Linked DNA regions of Homo sapiens: region 2 is linked to region 1. A link means that fine-mapping ties the variant in region 1 to the expression of a gene that starts in the linked region. Tissue or cell type: whole blood. Region 1 holds a variant in brackets; the other region holds the start of a gene. All regions are shown on one strand. Distances are from middle to middle.

Region 1 (8,183 bases):
GTTATTATGTGATTATTTAGATAGCTCAAATACAAGTCAGGACATGAAAATTACACAAATGAGGACCTGACAATGTGCTGAGGAAGGCAGAAGGGAGGGGCCATGGTTTTTCCCATCGGGGGAGTCAGAGACATCTTCATGCAGGCAGTGGTCAAGAGAATACGATTCGTCTTCATTCTCCTGTCATTTAAATCAATGTCTGCTGTTTGGGCTGGGCACAATGGCTCACGCCTGTAATTCCAATAATTAGAGAGGCTGAGATAGGGGGATCGCTTGAACTCAGGAGTTCGAGACCAGCCTGGGCAGCATAGCAAGACTATGTCTCTACAGAAAATTTTAAAATTAGCCAGGTGTCATGGCATTCACCTGTGGTTTCAGTCACTGGGGAGGCTGAGGCAGGAGGATCACTTGAGCCCAGGAGTTCAAGGCTGCAGTGAGCTATGGATGGTGCCACTGCACTCCAGCCTGGGTGACAGAGTGAGACCCTATCTCTAATCTCTCTCTTTATCTATCTACCTACCTGCCTACCTACCTACCTACCTACCTATCTAAACTTCTATTTATTGAGGACCTTCTATGTGTGCGGACATTGAACCACATGTTTTATATTCATGATTTCACATAATCCATCCAACAGTATTGTCAGGCAGAGGTGATGATTCCAGTTTCTCAGAGGAGAAAAATGATATTTCTCAAGATTAAACAAGTTGCCCCGGTCACACAGCTAGTGGATGGTGGAGCTCCGAACCCTAATCCGAATGACTGCATTCTAAAGCTTGAGGAGTGGGGTCTTAGTTTAGAGGCATGGTGCTGTCCACACTGACGATTACTCTTCATTCCAGAAGAGACTCCTCCATTTATCTTTCAGACAGTTCACAAGGGGGCAGGCTGCTCTTGGAGGGTCCTTGGCTCCACTCATCGGTTTCATATACTTAGCTAAATTCTGAGATTTTTAATTGAAAAGATTCAATCAGTGAGGAGAACTGGAGCCCAAAGCAGAAAACCCAGGCTGAAGTTTGTCGTGTGCACTCTGGGAGGGTTAGGAAAAGGCTTGCTAACTGAGAGGAGCACAGATTCCAGGGCTTGCACCAGAACCAGGTGCCAGGCACCAAGACCAGGAGGTCTTGGTCCTTGCTGGCTGGGCACCCAGGGGTCAGAATGAAATTGGAGACCCAGTAAGATCAAGGCTTCCGTTTGAAGGTCCTGTGCCCCTGTACTAAGCAAGGATGACGAGCGCAGGTGTGGATGTCAGGGGCTTCTCACACATTCTGCCTCTAAATAGAGTTACACCCAGAAGTTGAATTCCTGGAACACCAAAAGCACAGTCAAGCCCAGTCTTCCCCTGTAGGCAGCAGCATTTGATACAACCAGATTCTGGGACACTGAGAAAATGTGGGCGATCCCTTGGGGTTTCTTTTAATAATAACCTTTTGTGTTTGTGCAAACTTCATTCTTAAAGCACTTTCATAATCCCTGTTGCTGAATTCTCACAAAGTTCCTGGTCCTGACTTTTCTGTGGAAGCAAACAGAAGTGACCTGATGAGGTGGAAATCACTTGAGATTGGCATCGAGTGAACGTGGGGTTTGACTCTTCTTCTGGATTTAATAGCCGTGACCTGGGTGAGTTATTCACTCTTTTAAGTTTCAGTTTCCTTCTGTGTGCAGTGAGGATTATCCTCAGGCAGGGATTAAGTGACATCTGATACATCAAGTGCCACACAGCGCCTGGCCCGATGCCAAGTGCTCGACAGGTGCCAGTCCCCTTCCTTTCTGCCTCTGTCCACTTCACTCCTGCTGTCTGCCCTTTCAGTCTGGCACCCCTGGCAGCTCTACCTGAACTGGGATGACCCACTGGCAAGGTTGTCAAGGCAGAGTTTCTGCATGTGCCTTTTGTCACAAGGCTGGATGTGGAAGGCTGAGTAAGGTTGGTGCAGAGGCTGTCGGGGGGTCCAGGTGAGAGCTCGGGTTCAGCGTCAGTCTCTGCTGCTTTGTGTTCCTCTCTGGCACAGTGGAGGGAGACCCGTGGTGTCCTGTGGTGTGGGCACATGTGGGTGGGTTATGGGGACAAGCTGGGAGCACCATCAGCTATGAATGGGGAGGTGACAGTTACTCAGTGTGTTTCTTTGTGTCTGGGTTGGGGGAGGACTGGGGCTTGACCTGCATGAGATGGGGGGAGGCTGGGACTTGACCTGCATGGGATGGGGGTGGGGGACCTAGGATTTGGCCTGCATAGGTTTGGGAGGTAAGACAGGCACCATGTCATTCCAGGGACTTGGAGGTTGTTGTGCATAGAAGTGGTTAAAGACTGCATCTCTGTATTTTTGGATTCCAAGTCAGGACACATGGTCTGATACAAGTAAGCTCACAGCAGAAATGGCACAGAATATGTGAAACCAGGAGCATGCCAGGAAACCCAAGACACGTGATCACTGAGCCTGTTCCATCTCCTGAGAGGAGTTGGTTATATTCATTTAGAAGTTTGCTGATGCTTTTTCTGGGAACTTGTTTATTTTCCTTTCCTCAAGGTAGACAGAAAGAAGTCAGGATAGGTGGGATAGGAACTGAGAGGTTTATATATTTGTTTATTTATTTTTTTACCTTTAGAGACAAGGTCTCACTCTGTCATCCAGGCTAGAGTGCAGTGGTACAATCATAGCTCAGTGTAACCTCGAACTCCTGGGCTCAAGTGATTCTCCCACCTCAGACTTGGGAGTAGCTAGGACTACAGGTGTGCACCACCATGCCTGGCTAATTTTTAAAAAAACTTTTTTGTAGATACAGGGGCTTGTTATGTTGTCCAGGCTGGTCATGAACTCTGAGAGGTATATTTTTAGAGGAACAGAACCTTTTAGGCCTTCCTCCACTTTCCCCAAAATGTAGCACCTTCCATGAACCTCGAATCCAGATTCAGGCTGCATGTTTAAAGACAACTTAAAAAACCCATGCAATCTTTCCTTATATTAATTTTATTGAATAACTTTTCTTTCAAAATCAAACACATCAAAGAGTAAAATGGCACTTGATATATAGTTCTTGTTATTTGAAGTAGTTATGCTCTATTAAGTCACAGTGGACACTGAATTAGTGAACACTGAACCACTGCTCCTGGAAGAAATACAGGGTTAAGTTCCTACGAGCTTCTGGTCGCAGCGTTTTCATCAACCAATCAGTATGTAACTTTTGTTTTATATGTGTTTCTGTTTAAAGTTGCCTTATTTAATATGTAATTGTTTAATGACCATTGAATATTAACATGGAACTCATGCGTGATCAAAGCTTATCTAATACATGTATTTTCTCCATAAGGCAAATCACAGTTTTCTTGCATTTAGTAGTGTTAGAAAGTACTTCAGCCCTACACTTGGGGGCAACAGTGAAATCACCAAAAAAATGCACAAAAATGTGAAAACGTGGCACTAGAATGACTTCAAAAAGAGCATTTATTTACAGAGTAAGAGCTGAAACAAGAAGGCAGAATGCTGTCTTATTCAACACCTGGGAATGTGGGCATTGGGCAGCTTGAATTTCTCACTGTTGTGCAGGTTTCCTTGAATGAACATGAACACCAATATATGAGCGTTGACTTGCGGAGTACAAGGAAATTTTAGTGAGTAGGAGAATTTGCAAACATATAATCTGTGAATAATGAGGATCAACTTGACTTTTCTTCCTCCATCTTCCCTCTCCCCCACACCCCCAAGTGCTTTTGGCAAAACCAGACTTCAGGGAAGACAATCACAGAATAAATTGACAGGATTCCTTTGCTTTGGAACTTGCCTGGGAACTTAGCATTTATTTATTCATTTATTTATTTATGTACTATTTTTTGAGATGGAGTCTCACTCTGTCGCCCAGGCTGGAGTGCAGTGGTGCAATCTTGGCTCACTGCAGCCTCCACCTCATGGGTTCTAGCAATTCTGCCTCAGCCACCCAGGTAGCTGGGATTACAGGCATGTGCCACCATGCCTGGCTAATTTTTGTATTTGTAGTAGAGACGGAGTTTCACATGTTGGCCAGGCTGGTCTTGAACTCCTGACCTCAAGTGATCCTCCTGTCTCAGCCTCCCAAAGTGCTGGGATTACAGGCATGAGCCACTGCCCCTGACACTTAGCATTTATTTTAACTTTAATTTTAGGTTGATAACTAATTGAAGCCATTCTGTCTCCTCAGGTCTAGGTAAGCAATGGTACTGGTCTAGGTAAGCAATGGTACTGGTCTAGGTAAGCAATGGTACTGTCCAGCTATCGCCTTGCAAGGTATACAAAGACCTTCCAGATCTGACATGTTGTTCTCTTCATTGCCCTATCTTCCTCCATGCCCTTCCCAGTCTAGCTCCAGCCATACTGAACTCCGTGTAGTTTCCTCCTATGCATATGTGTGTTTGCATATTCTGATCTCTATGCCCAAGCTCTTTCCTGCCTGCGCTGGCTTTTCAAGTATTGCCTCCCTGTGAAGCTTTGACAGTGAGATCCCCCACTCTGTT[C/A]TTGACGTCCTAAGCATGCAAACCTATTTACCTTGTTTTATTTTATTTATTTTTTGAGACAGGGTCTCATTCTGTTACCCATGCTGGAATGCAGTGGTGTGATCTTGGCTCACTGCAGCCTTGACCTCCCCAGGCTCAAGCAGTCCTCCCACCTCAGCCTCCTGAGTAGCTGGGATTACAGGTGTGCCACTGCACCCAGCTAATTTTTTTTTGTAGTGATGGGATTTCACCATGTTGCCCAGGCTGGTCTTGAACTCCTGGGTTCAAGTGATCCACCTGCCTTGGCCTCCCAAAGTGCTAGGATTACAGGCATGAGCCATAGTGCCTGGCCTCCTACCAGGGCGTTGTCTGTTTACCTGTTTGTTTTTCCTTTAAGAATGTAAGCCCTTTGAGGGAAAGGACCCTCTCTCACCTTTGTCTACCAGTGCTTGGCAAGCAGCTTCATGAAAGGAGGGATAGAGGGGTGAAGGAGGAAGAGAGTGTTCCAAGATGTTGACACTTCTGCTCACGGTGGTTGAAAACACAGGTATAAGCTAATTAGGATTCATCAAAGGAAGAAAGCAAGGCATCTTATTTTTCTCTTTATTTATGTAACTGTGCACGAGCTTAAAAAGTTAGGTGTAATTTTCACAAAGGTTTAAAATAATTAGGAGTAATTTATTGGAAATCCTTGTGTTCAGCCAAATATGGTGTAAATTACAGACCTTTCATTTCACATTTCTATGAAATATATTTGACTGATAGTGGAGAGCAATAAAGTGGAGTCTTGATCTTGTGCCCCAGAAGTAATCACTATGTACCCATTGCAAGTCATTTCACCTTTTGGGACCTCAGTTTCTGCAGCTGAAAAATAAAAACATTAAGAGATTACACTGGAGTGAGAGTGTTCTGCTGTTTCTATCTGCCCAGCATCCTTTCTGTCTAGGATTAGGCATGGCCAGAAGAATCAGACCTGATAAATCTTTGTATTTCCTCTATCTGGCCAGAAGAATTGGTTCAGGAATGGACATATGATTAAAGTCTGAAATTCTGGAACTTTTGGCCAGGTGTGGTGGCTCACGCCTGTAATCCCAGCACTTTGGGAGGCCAAGGCAGGTGGATCACCTGAGGTCAGGGGTTTGAGACCAGCATGACCAACATGGTGAAACCCCATCTCTACTAAAAATACAAAAATTAGCCAGGTGTGGTGGCGCACACCTGTATTCCCAGCTACTTGGGAGACTGAGGCAGGAGAATCACTTGAACCCAGGAGATGGAGGTTGCAGTGAGCAGAGATCACGCCACTGCACTCCAGCCTGGGCAACAGAGTGAGACTCCATCTCAAAAACAAAAACAAACAAACAAAAAAACCCAGAAAACTTTTGTTGGAACTATTAGTTTAACATGGCAGATGAGATGCTATTAGTCTCCCTCCAAAATCCATTTTCTCCATCTCCCTTAGTAACAGAACTCTTGACTTTTAGCTGGGTTTATATCTTCCAGGAACAAAGATTACACTTCTAGCCTCCCTTACAACTAGGTGTGGGCATATGATTACATTTGACCAAGGATTTTTTTTTTCTTTTTAAGAGACGGGGGTTTTCCTTTAAGAAGTGGATAAAAGACATGAACAGACACTTCTCAAAGGAAGACATTCATGCAGCCAAAAAACATATGAAAAAAAGCTCAACATCACTGATCATTAGAGAAATGCAAATCAAAACCACAGTGAGATACCATCTCATGCCAGTCAGAATGGCAACTATTAAAAAGTCTAGAAACAACAGATGCTGGTGAAGTTGCAGAGAAATAGGAACACTTTTACACTGATGGTGGGAATGTAAATTAATTAATTTAACCATTAATTAACCATTGTGGAAAACACTGTGACAATTCCTCAAAGATCTAGAAACAGAAATACTATTTGACCAAACAATCCCATTACTGGGTATATACCCAGAGGAATATAAATCATTCTATCATAAAGATACATGCATGCGTATGTTCATTGTAGCACTATTCTCCTTCATTCTATCATAAAGATACATGCATGCGTATGTATGTTTGTGGAGGAACTACACAGTCCTGGACTGCTTACTTTGGGATTTTGTTTATGTAAGACAGAATGAACTTCTAGCTTGTTTAAACTGTTGTCACTTTGAGTTTTCTTTTACTTGGCAGCTTAACCTAATCCTGATTGATAGAGAGCTATCGGGAAGGACAACCACTGGGCTTCTGAGATGACCGGCTGGAAGCCTGAACCCGCCGGATGGTCATCTTGCCACCGCATGGGAAGGAAGGTTGCCTGAATAAAGCTGACATAGAAGGAGGCAAGGTAGGAAACAGAGACTCCCTCAGCCCCACTGACATCAAAGAAGCCACTGTATCTGGCTGTGCTTGAAGCTCACAGCTTTTAACTTTTCAGTTTATGTGTGACACTACTTTTGCCTAAATGAATTTTGTGTTAATCAGGGTCTTTGTCTTTCACAACTGAGAGTCCTATCCGATACAAAGCAGCAGAACGACTTCTCCCAACAACTTCTTACTCAGAAACCCAATCATATTCAGAAGGGGCACAAAGAGCTTCTTCAGCTCAGGCAGGGTAGGAGGATGGAGCCTGAGATCTCTCAGGAATTGCTTGTTCTCCTCACAGCACAGTCTGGAAAACACAAAACTAGACGAGTCTATGATCCTGTGGAAGAACAAGCTAATTCTGAGAGTTCATTTCAAAGCAAATGCCTGCTCCTTTTCTAGAATCACTCAAAGCCAGTTATTGCATCATTGCTACTTTTTAACATCTTTTTTTCTCCTTTGTTAGTAATGTTAATAAGGCACGTAGACACCTTAGTTGAAACAAGCCCAGCCCTCCCTTGGCTATTTCAACACATTCAGTATCCTCATCTTGAATGCTCATCTTAATCAAGATTCAGCAATCAGGTCTCTTAGTTTTAGATAATTCATTTATATTTTGACTTGTGAGGCTTGGGCTTAGGGCTAGCTAGATTCATAGGGACATTAGCTCTCCTCTAGCTAATTCTGCCATTGTTTCAATGTCTGGCATTTGGGATTTGTTCAGTTGGTTGCTCCTTGGAACCAAGTTTCATTTGCAAGGGAGGGGATCAGATTCCAAAGCTGGATCCCATTTCCATTGCTTCAGGAGAGACTCAGAATATGTCCCCAAGACCAGTTGCCTCTTCTAAGGGATCTAAGCCTCTCTGTGGAGGAAGGAGGGCATCACCTGCCTCAGCTTCCACTCTGCATGCAGCCTCTTTGGTGCTGGCCCATTTACTAACCACACTGGACTGCTCTGTCTTGGGAAAGGAAATGTATTCTCTGCCCTGATCAACAAAGGGCACCTTGGATCACCACTGATCTGCTGGAATGTTGGATGCCCTCTGAGGGTGAAATGAGCATTTTCCTCTTGATCTGAGCATTGTTGACATTTTCATTGGCAGCCCAGCCTTGAAAAGCCACATCTTGGCAAGAGAAGAGCTGAAATCTCACTCAAGCATTTGCTCTAGGCGATCACTCTGGGATCCAGGGCTGAGGCTTTCATCAGGGTCATGGAAGCACTGGGATCAAGGAACACCATTCTTTCCAGCGTCGGGGAAGACACAGCAATCATAAGCTGTTTCTTCCTCTTCCCAGGGCTTGTGTATACCATTGGGGCAGACCCAGGGAACGTTTAGAACTAGGCTCTGGTGTCAGATCAGAGGCTTGG
Region 2 (8,183 bases), 46 kb before region 1:
AGATCTCACCACTGCACTCCAGTCTGGGTGACAGAGTGAGACCCTGTCTCAAAAAAAGAAAGAAAGAAAAAAAACCCTCAACATACAGTATGAGCCCTACTATTCACTATTCCCAAGAATGTAATCTTTTTTTTTTTTTTTTTTTTTTTTGAGACAGAGTCTCACTCTGTCACCCTGGCTGGAGTGCAGTGGCGCAATCTTGGCTCACTGTAACCTCTGGTCCCAGGATCAAGTGATTCTCGTGTCTCAGCCTCCCGAGTAGCTGGGATTACAGGCGTGCACCACCATTCCCTACTAATTTTTGTATTTTTAGTAGAGACGAGGTTTTGCCATGTTGCCAGGCTGGTCTCAGGCTCCTAGCCTCATGTGATCCACCCCCCTGGCCTCCCAAAGAGCCACCTGCACCTGGCCTCAAGAACATAATCTTTTAAAGTGTAAAACAATTCATGACCATCCTTAAGCTATGACAACTCTTTAAGTTAGAAGCAGTTGTAGTCATTGTTTTGTCCGTTGTGTGGAAAATGTGAGGAGTCAATGGGCTAGTGGCATGCATGAATTTAATGCAAACTTTAAAGTGGTGTTGGCTCTACCCATTTTTCAAAAGGAGTTACTTTAAATTTCCAGGAATATTAGAGATTTGGACAAAGGCTAGGTGGGTCAAGACGGCCTTTAAACGCAGGGGCAGTGTTTCTTCACTGAGCTACCCCTTGTAGATGTGGTGTCAAGGCTGGTCATCTGGGAAACTGTGAGTTCTCATTCACGAAAACAGACTGAGGAGAGCTCAGCAAACAAAAATGGTAAGCTGTTACGTTCACCTAATTATGCCTACGTTAATGCCTTCAGTTTGTCCACCGATAAGTCTACAAAAGTCTAAATAATTCCAATCACATTTGATGTGCCTATGTTATAAGTCATTGAATTATTTATATTTCTTTACAATACAATTCAAAACCATGGGATTCAACCCAGAAACATCTTATTTCTTTCATATCAGAATTACTGTTTATCCCGGAAACCCTAATTATTATTATTTTTTAAGTTTAGTGACAGAGTATCGCTATGTTGCCCAGACTGGTCTTGAACTCCTGGCCCCAAGGGATACTCCTACCTCAACCCCCAGAGCAGCTGGGATTACTTGGGTGCAAACCACCATGCCCAGCCAGAAACACTTAATTCTTATGCGTTATTCCGAGATTACAATGCCCTATAGGTTAGAGGTAAATCATACGTCAGTTAAACAAACAAACAAAAAAAGGTTAATAAAAAAAGAAAAAGAAAGGATAAATGGTTAAAGAAAAGTAAATGCCAACAAGTTTTTGAAAGGTTATTTTAAAAAAGGGAAATAAAGGGTAAAAATCACAGAAGGCATCAATAAAGGCAAACGACAAACTTCACAAGAAAGGGCTCAAGAGAACAAATGTTGGCATTTGTATCTTACTACCTTTAGGCTATGAATAACAGTGGCCAGTGTTCTCCCTTAGGTTCCTGGACACTGATACAGGAGCTCTATCAAAATTTAGATATATGAGAAGTCACAGCCAAATAAAATTTGGACCCACAAACATCAAAAATCAGAATGGAAAGAGAAATCAGGCTTATTTTCCCAGAATTACTGTGAACTACACAGTAGAAAGCATGGTGAAGCATGCAGTGATCACGTATCAAGGGTGGCAGGTCAAAGGTAATTACTAACCAGATGGGGAGACATATTTTTAAAGGGAAAAAATGCCTCAATTACAGTTCACTCATTCTTCTACCCAGACCAAGGGTAACTAAGATATCTGTATTTTAAGGCTAATGAGAATAAAGTTTCCTTTAAGGAATTGTTCTGGCAACAAATCGCTTAAGCATCAAAGTATTACATTCTAAAAGGCAGCAGAGAAAATGAACTTGTTAACAGACAGAACCTATCCTACTCCCAAATTAAAGGGCACAAATGTGTGTGTATTTTTAAAAAATGCTTTAAAATAATACAAAACACTTGCATATTAGTCACTTTCTCTATTATGTTGCCAAGTGTGATGTTCTCACAAAAGGAAAATCAGCTCCAATAGCAGAGCAATCAGTAAAATTTCTAGGGTAAGTAGTAGAGAAACAGAAACCTTTCAATTTTTCATCAAAGCAAGGAAAGTTTAAACCTGTAATTTAAATTTAATCTCAACACACATACACAGACAATCAAAGCTTTTCTAGTGGTTTAAAGCATAAGCTAGTGTTTTAACCCAAACATTTAAAAAGAAAAAAGAAATTCAAAGGCACAATTGAAGAGTGCCATGTAACATTCCATATAGTACTCAGTACCACAAGCAGTTCTGGGCTATACAGAGTCAAAGAGGTAAAAGGACTCCAGAATTTAGAAACATCAATTTCCTGACAAGAATCAGTGGAGCACAGTAACTACATTGTGCTTTTGCACTTAGATTACAAAATAAAGGCTCTGCCACACACAGAGTGGAAGGCTAATGTCTGATTCTGTGTATACACATTTAGCTCAAATATATGAGGTGTAAGTGTTGCTTTAAAACCTTAAAGCAAAGGAATCTTTAATGTCCAAATAATTGTGGTAAAAAAAGAATACTTTATATTCTGATTTTGAAGTACATAAATTGTATGTCATAGTTTCCGTAAGAGGCTTAAAAATAAAACATTTGATTGATTCCATGTATATCTTTTTATTTGATTTATTTTTTGAGACAAGAGTCTTGCTCTGTCGCCCAGGCTGGAGTACAATGGCATGATCTCGGCTCACTGCAACCTCCGCCTCCCAGGTTCAAGAAATTCTTCTACTTCAGCCTCCTGAGTAGCGGGGATTACAGGTGCCCGCCACCATGCCTGACTAATTTTTGTATTTTTAGTAGAGATGGGGTTTCACCATGTTGGCCAAGCTGGTCTTGAATTCCCGACCTCAAGTGATGCACCCGCCACGGCCTCCCAGAGTGCTGGGATTACAGGCGTGAGCCACCGGGCCCAGCCAGATTCCATGTCAATCTTAACATGTAAAACACATCAATTGTGATGTTAAATTATTTTAAAACAACATTCAGTAGCTCTACCCAACTGGCCACTTGCTGAATTTCTACCTCTTCAAACCACTGTAGATAGTTCCACCTATTGTCACGCTCAGTTAACTCATAACATAGTTGACAACATACTGCAGCATTTAAATGGCATTTCAGAAACAAGTCACCTCACCATCTTTTAAAGGCATATTTGATCCATTTGCAATTCAAGAAACATATTTGGGCCATGAAGCTGCCCATGGTTATGTCAAACTGAAGGAAACTATAATGGATCATTGTTGATTTCCCAACCATGGAAATCGGGCAGTGCAACCCACCTCACTGCAAACTGACTGTAAATAACTGCTACACATTTCTCTACACAGACTCATCCACACCCACTTATCCCATGACCAGCATCTCTCAGTCCCACACCCAAGGAATGCCTAATCACCTCTCAGGCCCTCGTCCTCCCTGTCACAGAGGAGAGAGCCACAAAACCTGCTTCCAGCTAACCAGAAATTGATCCCTGAACGGGAAACACAATCTACATAACATGGGTCAAGACCAAAAGAATCTTTGGTTGAATGTACATATGTGGGCACACAAAAACACAGGCAGGCACGCACACACTCCATTACCTCTACAACAAGATACAATGATTTTTTTTTTTTTTTTAAAGTTTTGCTAGGTCTGAAGGGGAAGCAAATCCCATTCTTCCATTTTTGCCTGCAATGTTGCCCAAAGGACCTATATCCTGATGACCATTTTGATATGCAAGACAAAACAGGTGGCTCCCAGTGAATGTGACAAGTTTAAGGCCTTGTTCTGAGACATTTTCCTGTCCAGGCCTATCTAACGCCCGACGTCTTTAAGGTTCCAAGAAAGCCTGAACGCACCGCCTGGCCATGCACCTAATAAACCCTTTCAGCCAAACAGTGCGGCCAGCACAGAGGCAGCAAACACCAGTCACGAGAATGATGATGATTTATCTTGCGCGGAGAGGTAGGAGGATATAGTTTACAACCTGGTGACTGAGACGACCTGGAGCCTCAGGAATTGGCTCCTCATCGCTGCCGACAATAACCCGGGGTGGGGATTTGGGGGAGTGCAGCAGGGGAACACTGCTGGATCCAGATTCCCGGCACCGGGCAACAAAGTTCCATAAGGTCGTCAACCCCGGCGATCGGCCTATATTATTCTTCCTGCTCCAAACACCTGTCTTGCTTAGTGGCTCTCTTCTTACACGTTTGGCCAAGGCCCCTTCTGTGCCTGGACCTCCCCAGAACTGCGGGACCCTCAAAGGCCCGGTTGTCGCCCACACCCTTCCCGTCCCCGGTGAGTCTCTCTCCCTCGCCAGAGCAGGCGTGGGGAGCCAGGTTGCGTACCCGGTTCTCCAGCTCCGCAGGGAACTTGGTCTGGAACTGGCAGCGTGTGCCACTGCTGTAGTCTCGCTGAATGAACACCTTTCCGGACACCGGCGCCTGCTGCGGCCTCATGGCGAGGACAGGACACCCCGCGCTGCGGGGTCGGGGGAACACCAACCGCGAGTCAGAGCCCCGGCCTGGACCCGGGACTCTGACCCGCCAGCCCCTCGCCCCCACCCGCCGCCGAAAACAGCCCAAGGCCTCCTCTGCCCCGCTCCCCTTCACCCATGCTGTCACCGCGGGCCTTAGCTGCCGCCTGGCCCAGGCCCCGCGCCCCCCACAACCCGGTTCGGCCCGGGAAACACAAACCCGCCTCCTCTGCCCTCCAGCTGCTGTCGCACCGCCTTCGCCGTCACTTACGTCCTGCCGCAAAAAGCCTCTTCCCCGCCCCTCAGCTCGGCCTCCTACCTCAGGTCTGGGACCCACCCTCTCCTCCGGCCGTAAAGCCACCCTGCCGAAGCTGCGCGCTGTGGGGCTGGGCCGAGGAAGGGAAATGATGTGGGCGGGGCCAGGGCCGACCCCGCCTTCCGCCCGCGCGGGGATTGTTTCCGGAAGGAGAGAGGCGGGGCGAGCTGTGGGGCTGCGGCCGGGGCGAGCTGTGGGGCTGCGGCCGGCGCGAGCGCGCGGGGGTGTGAGGGGCGGAGTTTCCCGGCTGTGTCACTTCCCTAGTGATTGTGGCAGGTGGTTCCCGATCACTGATTGTGAGGGGTCATTTTCGTTCTTGATTGGACGTCGCAGCTTACGTGTGGGTTATGCCACCCAACTCATACACAAAACAAAAAACAAAACATAAAGAAAAAACAACACCCCCTCCCCAAACCCTCAAACACAAACTGCTCATTGTGTTCAGAAGTAGAAAGCAGGCTCCAAGGATGGATCCATTTGGTCCCTAGACTCTTGAGAAAGGGTCAGGAAGTGAGGACGAAGAACCTGCCTGGGCCCCAGCGTTGGGCGCCCCTGCCCCGACTCTTCTTTGGGGGCGGCGTTCCTCTCACCCCCCATTTCCACCCAGCTCCCATCCACATCCCTCAGGTGACCAAGGGGACAAGTGGTTCCGCCCTCGTTGCCCACTGGCCCTTACTTGACTCAGCATTTCTTTGCAAGGCAGCCAAAGAAACCCCACCTTACCCTTGTCTCCTGCTAATACAACCTGTTAGTACCACTGTCTTTTATATATTTAATATAGTTTAAATATCCTGCCTTTTAAATATGAAAAATTCTCTTACTGTATTTTAAAAACAGCTTTTTCGAGATATAAATGGCATACAATAAACCACACATTTAAAGCAGTGGATTTGATAACTTTGGACATATGAATACACCCATAAACCACTGTCACAATCAAGATAGTAAAGCTCCATTGCCCTGAAAAGGTTCCTCCAGCTCCTGTGTAATCTCTCCCTCCTGCCTCTCCCAGACCCCATTTCCCAGGCACTGATCCACCTTCTGTCACTCAACATTAGTTTCATTTCCTTGAATTTTATATAAATTGAATCATATAGTGTGTACCCCCTTTTTTTGCCTGGCTTCTTTCACATAGACTATTTTGAAGTCCATCTGTTGTTGTGTTATCAATAATTCATTTATTTTTGATGCTGGATAGCTATTCCATTGTATGGCCATCCCACAGTTTGTTTATCCATTCATCTGTTGATGGACATTTGGATTGCTTCCAGTTTTGGGATGTTACAAATAAAGCTGCTATGGACATTCATTTGCAAGTCTTTGCATAGGTGTGTAGACCTTAATGCTTTCATTTCTCTTGGGTACATACCTAGGAGTAGAATGGCTAGATTGTACGGTAAAAACACGTTTAACTTTTTGGCAGACTGACAAACTGTTTTCCAAAGTGGTGACACCATTTTGCATTCCCACCAGAGTTCCAGTTGCTCCACATCTTTGCCAAGACTTGGGTAGTAATATCTTCTGCAGCTATAATTTTCATTTTTCCATGACTAATTATTTTGAACATATTTTCCTGTACTTATTTGCCATCCATGTATCTTCTCTGGTGAAGTGTCTATTTAAAACTTTTGCCCATTTTTTTGTTTGTATTTTATTTTCCTGTTGTTGAGGGGTTTTTTGTTTTATTTTGTTTTGATTTACATCTTTATTGGCTGGGCTTAAGGTCAGTTTTAAATTTTTAAGGCACTTTAATTCTTGGATTTTTGTATGTTTAAAGATGTTTTCCTGAGGCCTTTATACTTGCGTGAGAACTTGGCCGGGCTGTTTTTGAGTTTTGAGTTCTTTATACATTCTGGAGAAAAATCCTTTATCAGATATGTGATTTGCATGCATTTTTCACAGTCTGTGATTTGTCTTTTTACTCTCTTAACACGTTAGGGGTTTGAGGGGATTAGGGTGTGGACCTCTTGGGGAGGGCATTTCTGCCTCCCATAGGTATAGAGTGAAACTCTTCCCTCCCCCCGTATGATTATGCAGTTGTTATTCAGTTGTTTACGTACCATTTGTTGAAAAGACTCTCATTTCTTCACTGAATTGCCTTTGTATCTCTGTTGAAAATCAGTGGGGGCCGGGCGCGGTGGCTCACGCCTGTAATCCCAGCACTTTGAGAGGCCGAGGCGGGCGGATCACGAGGTCAGGAGATCGAGATCATTCTGGCTAACACGGTGAAACCCCGTGTCTACTAAAAATACAAAAAATGAGCCGGGCGCCGTGGCGGGCGCCTATAAGTCCCAGCTACTCGAGAGGCTGAGGCAGGAGAATGGGGTGAACTCGGGAGGCGGAGCTTGCAGTGAGCGGAGATAGTGCCACTGCACTCCGGCCTGGGCTAAAGAGCGAGACTCTGTCTCAAAAAAAAAAAAAAAAAAAAAAAGAAAAAGAAAATCAGTGGTGTGTGTGTGTGTGTGTGTGTCTGTCTGTCTGTCCCTCTGTCTGCCTGTTTTGGACTTTCTATTCCGTTTCATGATCTGATCCTGTTTTGAATTAAATGTCTACTAGTGTTTGTCTCCGAAGTTGATGCTTCCTTACTAACTCAGTAAGATCTCCTAGGAGCTGGTTTTCTACATATTTGTTACTAGGGGTTGAGAACACCCTTAAACAGGTAAAACAGTCTCTACCCTCAAAATTTCAGTCTAATGGAGTGAACGAAGAAAACAATTTTCATACATTGTATATTTGGAGTATTTTCCTGCAGCCCTTGGCCACTGAGACTAGGTGGTAAAACAGACTATTATTATTATTTTTTGAGATGGATCTCACTCTGTCGCCCAGGCTGGAGTTCAGTGGCACGATCTCGGCTCACCACAACCTCCGCCTCCTGGGTTCAAGCCATTCTCCTGCCTCAGCCTCCCGAGTAGCTGGAATTACAGGTGCGTGCCACCACACCCAGCTAATTTTTGTATTTTTTTGCGTAGAGACGGGGTTTCACCGTGTTGTCTAGGCTGGTCTTGAACTCCTGACCTCGTGATCCACCCGCCTCGGCCTCCCAAAGTGCTGGGATTACAGGCGTGAGCCACTGCACCCAGCAAACAGATTATTTTTGAATGAGGAAATTTGAGGGCAAATATAACCCAAGGAAAACCCTCTTCATGTTTGGGAAGAGGATCGATCCCAGGTGAAAGAGGAATCAAAGGACGATGAGCTGTATTGTTATCGTCTTCCCTCATCCCTAAACACACTCATGTGTCTAGATTCTAGTTTTGCCATTAAAAGTAAAACAGCAATTACTTTTGTACCAACCAAATAGCTTCTGGCAGTTACCAGCAATCCTTGGAATTCCTTGGCTTATGACAGC

Evidence for each region. PIP is the estimated chance that this variant, and not a neighbour inherited with it, causes the effect.
Region 2: GOLGA7 starts here. The variant in region 1 is fine-mapped to the expression of GOLGA7 in whole blood (TOPMed, PIP 0.98).

Annotation. Positions count from the first base shown.
Region 1 is chr8:41,441,211-41,449,393 of GRCh38, reverse strand. It overlaps LOC124901938 (a long non-coding RNA gene), which reads left to right and starts at 6,454. Exons shown (of 2, transcript XR_007060897.1): 1 at 6,454-6,797. The variant C/A (reference allele first, on the strand shown) is at 4,484.
Region 2 is chr8:41,487,170-41,495,352 of GRCh38, reverse strand. GOLGA7 (golgin A7) reads right to left here and starts at 4,771. Exons shown (of 5, transcript NM_001002296.2): 1 at 4,388-4,771. The coding sequence starts at 4,498. RefSeq lists enhancers at 4,141-4,250, 4,301-4,410, 4,701-4,830 and a silencer at 4,881-5,140.